Homo sapiens: one gene and its partner. The main gene of each other region encodes a partner of the protein of the gene in region 2 in a complex. Each region holds a gene or a part of one and is shown on either strand. Other genes may lie near its edges.

Evidence for each region. Proteins that work in one complex are often made in the same cells at the same time.
Region 1: KAT6A (region 2) and BRPF1 share a complex: the UniProt entries of both Homo sapiens proteins name them as parts of the MOZ/MORF complex.

What each region holds. Positions count from the first base shown.
Region 1 is NC_000003.12:9,741,713-9,745,458, forward strand, and holds part of BRPF1 (peregrin), read left to right. Parts: intron 1-312; coding exon 313-459; intron 460-639; exon of another isoform or gene 640-829; intron 830-1,231; coding exon 1,232-1,541; intron 1,542-1,865; coding exon 1,866-2,189; intron 2,190-2,511; coding exon 2,512-2,796; intron 2,797-3,295; coding exon 3,296-3,443; intron 3,444-3,746. UniProt on the Homo sapiens protein: Scaffold subunit of various histone acetyltransferase (HAT) complexes, such as the MOZ/MORF and HBO1 complexes, which have a histone H3 acetyltransferase activity.
Region 2 is NC_000008.11:42,049,988-42,053,733, reverse strand, and holds the start of KAT6A (histone acetyltransferase KAT6A), read left to right. Parts: upstream 1-1,746; 5' UTR 1,747-1,833; exon of another isoform or gene 1,834-1,984; intron 1,985-3,746. UniProt on the Homo sapiens protein: Histone acetyltransferase that acetylates lysine residues in histone H3 and histone H4 (in vitro). Component of the MOZ/MORF complex which has a histone H3 acetyltransferase activity. May act as a transcriptional coactivator for RUNX1 and RUNX2.

The DNA of each region.
Region 1 (3,746 bases), on a different chromosome or scaffold from region 2:
TGGAGTCAGGTCTCCTGGTGCTCGGTGTGCTTTTAGTTCTGCTGGAAGCAGAATGTCACAGGAGCGTATGAACAGAATCCTCAGTTATGTGACATAGGTAGCTGGTGCTGGTAGTTCAAGAAAGGGGGAAGCCAGAATTGTTGGTGCAAGTTTCCCTGGGTGGAGCCTCATAGAAGGTAGACCTGTATGAGTACACCCAGCTGTGAGGGTGGGAAAGAAGGCGGGTTCCCAGGCCAGCTGGGACCATATCCTCAGACCTCTTTGCCACTGAACTGGCCGAGGCCTGGCTGATCAGGCCTTTTTCTATGTTAGATCAAGGTTCAGCAGATTGCCATGGAGATGCAGCTGACTCCTTTCCTCATCCTCCTTCGCAAAACCTTGGAGCAGCTCCAAGAGAAGGACACAGGCAACATCTTCAGCGAGCCGGTCCCTCTGTCTGAGGTAACCGAATTGGACGAAGTAAGAATCCCTTCCCCTCACTCCACCTTCTCTCTGTTCCTCTCCCAGTTGGACCCCTGCTGCAGGTCTGGGCCAGGACTAGATGGGGACCTTGAAGAGAGGGGCTGGTGGCTCTGGGGCAGGATGAACTGGAGCCACATGTATCACCTGGACTCTGTCTTGTCCCTGTCACACCCCAAGGGCCCAGAATGGGAGGCAGTCTGCACTCCTTCCCCAGAGGCAGGGACTGAGTCTGCCAAATGAATAATCCCAGGGCAGGAAGACACTTTCGGGGTGCTGAACCCTAGAACGGAGACTTTAGAAGGCTCAGCACCTAAAGAACCAGCTCTGAAGCCCTAGGTCCTGACTGGCAGACTCTTCTCTCTAAAAGGTATAAAATGAGAGGCCTGAGGCAGCAGCCTCCTTATAAGTTACTGTTAAGTAAAAAGAGCTGTAGGAATGCAAGGTGGTGTTTATTTTCAGAGGAGTCCCCAAGCCATTTTCTTACTAAAGCCTCATATAGTCTAGAAAGTATATTTGGCTCTACTTTCATCATTTTCCAGGAGAGGAAAAGTAGGCCCAGAGAGGTTAAGAGACTTGCCAAAGTCACACAGCTTGTGACTGGTAAAGTCAGGACCAGAATCCAGCTTTCCTTTCCCCTGTGCTATATGCCTGCCTCTAACTGTGGTGGGAGGAGGTTGCTGGATGTGTTTCAGGGGGGCTTGTTAGGAGCAGGGTTCGGGGCAATAAGGAGGATATCTCCACTTAAAACAAACCTGCCCTGCCCTTCCAGGTACCTGACTACCTAGACCACATCAAAAAGCCCATGGACTTTTTCACCATGAAGCAGAACTTGGAGGCTTACCGCTACCTGAATTTTGATGATTTTGAGGAGGACTTCAACCTCATCGTCAGCAACTGCCTCAAGTATAACGCCAAGGACACCATCTTCTACCGGGCAGCAGTGCGGCTTCGTGAGCAGGGTGGTGCTGTGCTCCGCCAGGCCCGGCGCCAGGCAGAAAAAATGGGCATTGACTTTGAGACGGGCATGCATATCCCCCACAGCCTGGCTGGAGATGAGGCCACACACCACACTGAAGATGGTGGGTGATATATCACACACACATATAAGAGGCCAATGCCGGGGATGGACAGCTTTCCAAAAGTCCCCTCCTGGGAGCAGGCAGTGTAGGCAGAAAGCAGCTAGGCTGAGCAGTGGCAAGCTATCCCCAGGAATGCTCCCCAAGAAGCCAGACTGGGTGAATGGATAGCAGTGCCCGCCATTCCACATCTTGGTGCTGCTATTTTACAGCTGTTCCTGGTGAGAAGCCCAGGGGGGATGAGTGGGTTTCTTGCTGCCTGCCCAGGTTCAAGGGGCCCTGAGGGCTGCCCTGAGTCTGACCTTTCCCCTCCAACCCTACCCCTAGCAGCCGAGGAAGAGCGGCTGGTCTTGCTGGAGAACCAGAAGCACCTGCCAGTGGAAGAACAGCTAAAGCTGCTTCTGGAGCGGCTGGACGAAGTGAATGCCAGCAAGCAGAGTGTGGGCCGCTCACGGCGTGCAAAGATGATCAAGAAAGAGATGACGGCACTGCGGCGGAAGCTTGCCCATCAGCGAGAGACGGGACGTGATGGCCCTGAGCGGCATGGCCCCTCGAGCCGGGGTAGTCTGACACCCCACCCGGCAGCCTGTGACAAGGATGGGCAGACAGATAGTGCGGCAGAGGAGAGCAGCAGCCAGGAGACAAGCAAAGGTCTGAATCCCATGGCAAGGTGGACCCCAAAGCAAGTCAGACTTTGGCTCTGCAGCACACACTCAACCCCTGCCATTCCCCAGGCAGAGGTCCCTCCTACACAGCTAGCTGTACTTTCTCCCTCATTCCCCAATCAGGGGCCTCTTAGCTGCCTCTCTGGCTATTTGTATAAGAGTTAATCTTCCAAATTCCAAGCCCCTAAAATGATCTCCCCAACGTTAGCTGGAGTAATGGTCCTATATGCCCAGGGCATGACCCTGGATATCTACCCTTCTCAAATCAGGCCCCTCACCAACTCTCCTTCTTTCTTTCTCTGCTCCAGGCCTGGGTCCCAACATGTCCTCAACCCCCGCACATGAGGTGGGCAGGAGAACCTCAGTTCTGTTCTCCAAAAAGAACCCGAAGACAGCTGGACCGCCCAAGAGGCCGGGCCGGCCCCCCAAAAACCGGGAGAGCCAGATGACCCCCAGCCACGGAGGCAGTCCTGTGGGGCCCCCCCAGCTCCCCATCATGAGTTCCCTGCGTCAGCGCAAGCGGGGTAGGAGCCCCCGGCCCAGTTCGAGCTCAGACAGCGACAGTGATAAGTCCACAGAAGACCCCCCAATGGGTGAGCCTTACCATCACCCAGCCCCCCAAGAGAGTGAGCAAAGCTGCCATTCTTCCCAGCATACTCCCAGTTACCCCTTTATTTGCCCATAAAAGAGCGAGCTAGAAGGGTCCTTAGGAATCCTTTAACTCCACTCACTCATCTTACAGTTGGGAAAACTGAGGCCCAGAGACACTACGACCCAGCTAAAGTCCCATCCAGGGCCCCCTGCCTCCATTGTATCACTTTACCTTTTCTCTTCTCACCTTCCTTGGGGATCTCCTGCCCTTTAAGCCATTTGTGTCCTAAAGCCAGTAACTGCCGAGGGAAGCAAGGGGTGGAGCAGGGCTGTGGCCAACTGTGGTAGACACTGCCCAGAGCTAGCTCTGCTGGCCAAGGTTGGAGGAATTTTCCAGCACAGAAGGGGAACCCAAGCTCCAAGTCCCTCTTACCTCCATGTCATCTCTGATCTACATCTTCCTGACCGGTTCCTTCCCTCCTCCCCTTCCCTTCAACCAAGACTTACCAGCCAATGGCTTCAGCGGTGGAAACCAACCAGTGAAGAAGAGTTTCTTGGTATACCGTAATGACTGCAGCCTTCCCCGGAGCAGCTCAGACTCTGAGTCCAGCAGCAGTAGCAGTAGCAGCGCTGCTTCAGACCGGACCAGGTACCAGCCCTCCAGATCGAGGCCAACCTCAGGGGATGCCCTTCCAGGGCTCTTGGGCCTGTGTAGGTTTCCCTGTTGGAAGTGGGGTGGCAGCCATCTCAGTCTAGATTAAGATGGCTCAAACTCAAGGTTCTCTGCTAAATAAATAAATCAGTGTTACCATTAATAGAACAGAGAGAACCATCCTGGATTAAGGTGATGATTAGAGTATGCACTCCTGCCGCCACTGCTCAGGCTAACCCACCTCTGTTAGGTCATCAGCCTAGCCCCTGTGGGTGTTTGAATTTGAAATTCCTCATATAG
Region 2 (3,746 bases):
TTATTTTAAACCGCCTACTACAGTACTTGTACAACATTATTCTAGGTGCTGGAGATGCAGAGTCATTATAGGAGAGCATTTACCAGTGAATGTATTCGGAATATATATATATATATATATATATCACATGTAAGTGCAAAATGACTAGAGCAAATGATACTACTACAGAAGTTCAGAAAAGGAAGTCAGCATGGAAGTTAAGGCAGTGGGTGAGAGGGAGGCCCTTAAAAGCTAAAGCTGAGATAAAATGAGGTATTGCGGGCGACAGTCTAGGCGGGGTGTGTCGTATGGGGTTGGGGACAGGGCAGATAAAGGTCAGGCAGCAGGATACACGTCCATGTCAACGATTAAACATTTAGTGTCTTTTTCATGTCTACTGTCTTTCTAGTGAATGCAGAAAAAAAAAAAATGCATGACTTGGCCAGGTGCAGTGTCTCAGGCCTGTAATCCCAGCACTTTGGGAGGCCGAAGAGGGCGGATCACTTGAAGTCAGGAGTTCGAGACCAGCGGCCTGGCCAACATAGTGACACCCCGTCTCTACTAAAAATACAAAAATAAGCCAGGCGTGGTGGCGGGCGCCTGCAGTCCCAGCTACTCAGGAGGATGAGGTAGGAGAATCGCTTGAACCCAGGAGACGGAGGTTGCAGTGAGCCAAGATCGCACCACTTGCACTCCAGCCTGGGCAACAGAGCGACACTGTCTCAAAAAAAAAAAAAAAAGTATGACTCAGTCTCTGCATCAAAGAGTTTAAAGTAGATGAAAGGCAAGACAAAGAAACGTCCATACAGCCAGTAGTGGACAGGCAGGCCATGAAGAACCGCCTGCTCGTGGTTCCAACGCCCTAAGTATGGACAAGAGTTCCGCACAGGGCAAGAAGGGAAGACCGGCTTTGGAATAAGACAAATCTCAGTCCCAGGCTCAGGTGCGCGCCACATACTAGCTGTGTGACCTTGTCCAAGTCACACGACCCAGGTCTGTGGAGTCTCCCATAAAATGGCTCTAGTGAGCTCCAAGAACCCTCTCAGCTGCTGGGGGAGGGAAGAAATGAAGTCACTGCTGAAAGGGGTTAAGACGGGTGCTTCTGGTTCCACCCTCTCCCCAACTCTTCCCACCGACACAGGAGAGCCGTCGGGGGCTGAGGCGAGCTGCCAGGGGTGAGGACGGGAAGCCGCCTCCTCTCCGCCCCCCAGGCCCCGCCCTCGGGCTCCGGAAAGTCGCTGTGCAGGCAAATGAGTGGGGAGGGAGGGCTCACTAACTGTAAACAGACGCCGCCGAGAGTTCCCATCCTGCGTGGCTGCCGGATTTCCGTGCCACACTGAAGCCACCCCACCCAGACTCCTGCCCTCAGTTTCCCCAGCGGTGGCATGGGGTGCACCAGCTCCTCCTCTCCCGGGTCGCCGTCTGACTTAAACGCGTGAGACGGGAGAGGAGGAACCCCCGCTCCCCAGCCTCCAGCCCCACCAAGTCCTCCTCCTCCCCTGGCTTTGGCCTTTTGTACCGGCCCCACGTGACCCCGCCGGCCGGCTCTTCCCTGCTGCCCCGCCCCGCCCTCCGGCCTTTCCCGGCTCTCGGCCCAGCTCTTCCCGCTCTCGGCCGCCCCCCACCCGCGCTGCCGGGCCTCCGCCTCCCCTCGCCGCCCGCCCAGGCTCTTCCAGCTCCCTCCCCCAGGCCGCCGTTCCCTCGCGACGCTCCCCTCCCCCCGCGGCTGTTCCGCCGCCTTGCCTCCCCTCCCCCCGGCTGGAGCTCACTGTCTCCAAGATGGCGGCCGTGTCAGTTTGGGGCATCTCCGCGGTCCGGCCCGGGGCCCCGGGATCTCGGCTGTCCTTCCTCCCGGTAAGTAGCCGAGGGGCCGTTCCCGGCCGCCCCCGGCCGCCCAGCCCGAGGCCGAGCCGCTCCAGGGCCCACTCCGCTGCCTCGCGGGGTCGGCGGGCCGCTGCAGGCCCCGCCGCGGCCTGCGCCGCCTCCCGCTGCTCTGCGCCAGGCCTCGGGCTGGGGCGCCGTGGCCGCCCCCTCGCGCCCGCCCGCTCGCTCGCTCGCTTGCTCGCTTGTTCGGCGCCCGGCTGCCCCGGCCCGCGGCCCGCGCGCCGCCGCCCGGCCCCGCGCTCGCGGGCCCCGCGCCCCCGATCCCGCCGGCCGGGCCCGCCCTGGGGGAGCCGGCGGGTGGGCGGGCGGCGAGCGGCCCAGGCCGCGGAGCCTCGGGCTGGCGGAGCCGGCGAGCCCGCTCTCCCTCGGGGCGCGCCCACCCGCCCGCCGCGCGCGTGCCGGCTGTGCCGGGCCGGGCCGCTTCTCCCCGCGCTCGCGGGCGCTCGGGTTCGGGCTCGGGCTCGGGTTCCGGCTCCGGCTTTGGCTCCGGCCGGGGGCGCGGGGATCCGAGCGGGGCTGAGGCGGCGAGCGGGGCTGACAGGCCGGCGGGTGTTGTGGTGCGAGGCGCAGCACGTGTGGTGTTGTGTCTGCCGGGCTGTCAGCCCAGCCGCCGAGGGGAGGCCGGGCGCCTGTCAACCTCGCGGCTTGGCCCGGTGCGCGACTGTCAGGCTCCCAGCAACCCGCGCCGCCCTCGAGCCGGCCCCCAGAGCTTAGGGTGCGGAGCTGGGCCGGGGCTATGCACCGCTCTGAACTCCTTCACGTGATTTCATTGTTAACTTGTGCTCGGGGTCTGTTTCCATCGCGTGGAAACGGTGCAGCGCCCCGTCGGCGAGCTGCCGGGCTGTGCAGATCCAAGTTTTTAAAGTTTCTCGCTCTTTGAAAAGAGAGCGCGAAGACGTGTTTAGGGGTGGGGAATGGGGACGGGAAGGACTGTCGGAAGCGAGTTGCGCTCGCTCTAGCCGCTCGTGTACTTTCCGGGAGTTAAGATCCGAGGCTGCAGGCGCTTGACTTTCCGAAGACCTGGAGACTGATGACAATCCCGACTGGAAAGACAATGAGTGACTGTCACTCATTCTTTTACCTGCGAAGCTTAGTCAATTAGGACGTTCGTTCCCAGCTTGTTAAACTCAGGATGTAGCTTCTCATTTAGTTTAGACTTAATATCTGTATAATGAGCTTACTTGGAGTAATGATACTCTGATTTCTATCCTCTTGAGACCCTCACCAAATTGAAGCATGATTCTCCCAGGGGGCTTCTTTTTAGGCAGCTGATTTAAAAACAAATCTTGGCTCAGGTTTGAATGTTTGCTTCACTCTTTTCTTTCCTATCAGAGTTAATAGTAATATCTCTTTCCTAGTGTGTATTAGTTTTCCGTTTGATTTTAATGTCACTACCAAGAATAGTTGCTGTGGGAGCCATTTGTCTAGCATTGTTTATATTGTAATGCAAATGATCTCCAGAATGAGAGCAGAAGTTCTAAAAAACACTTCAGTTAAACTTATTTTTGGAGGCAAAAGAGTTAGATTCAGAATTCAGTACTTTAGTGATTAAACAAGATTGCATCTACCAGATTCTTTTATAGGGATACTGACTTTGATTCAGAGAGACAGTACATTTCTGTTTATGTTTTATTAATGTTCGTTTCAGGACAGCAATCTTGAATTTATATCTTTATTATTTGGGCTTCTCTTTAGTCCTACAAGTAGCCAGTGTATTTCTTTTTCTGTACCGTCCGTTTGATATGTAGTATGTGCGTTGACCCCAGTGATTCTGGGCCTTCCTCATTTCTAGTTTTCCTGTCTGAATTACTTACACGCAGTTTGACAGTTGTGACTCTCTTCAGCATATGAATAGAAACATCTTAGTTTGGGTTAGGAGAAGC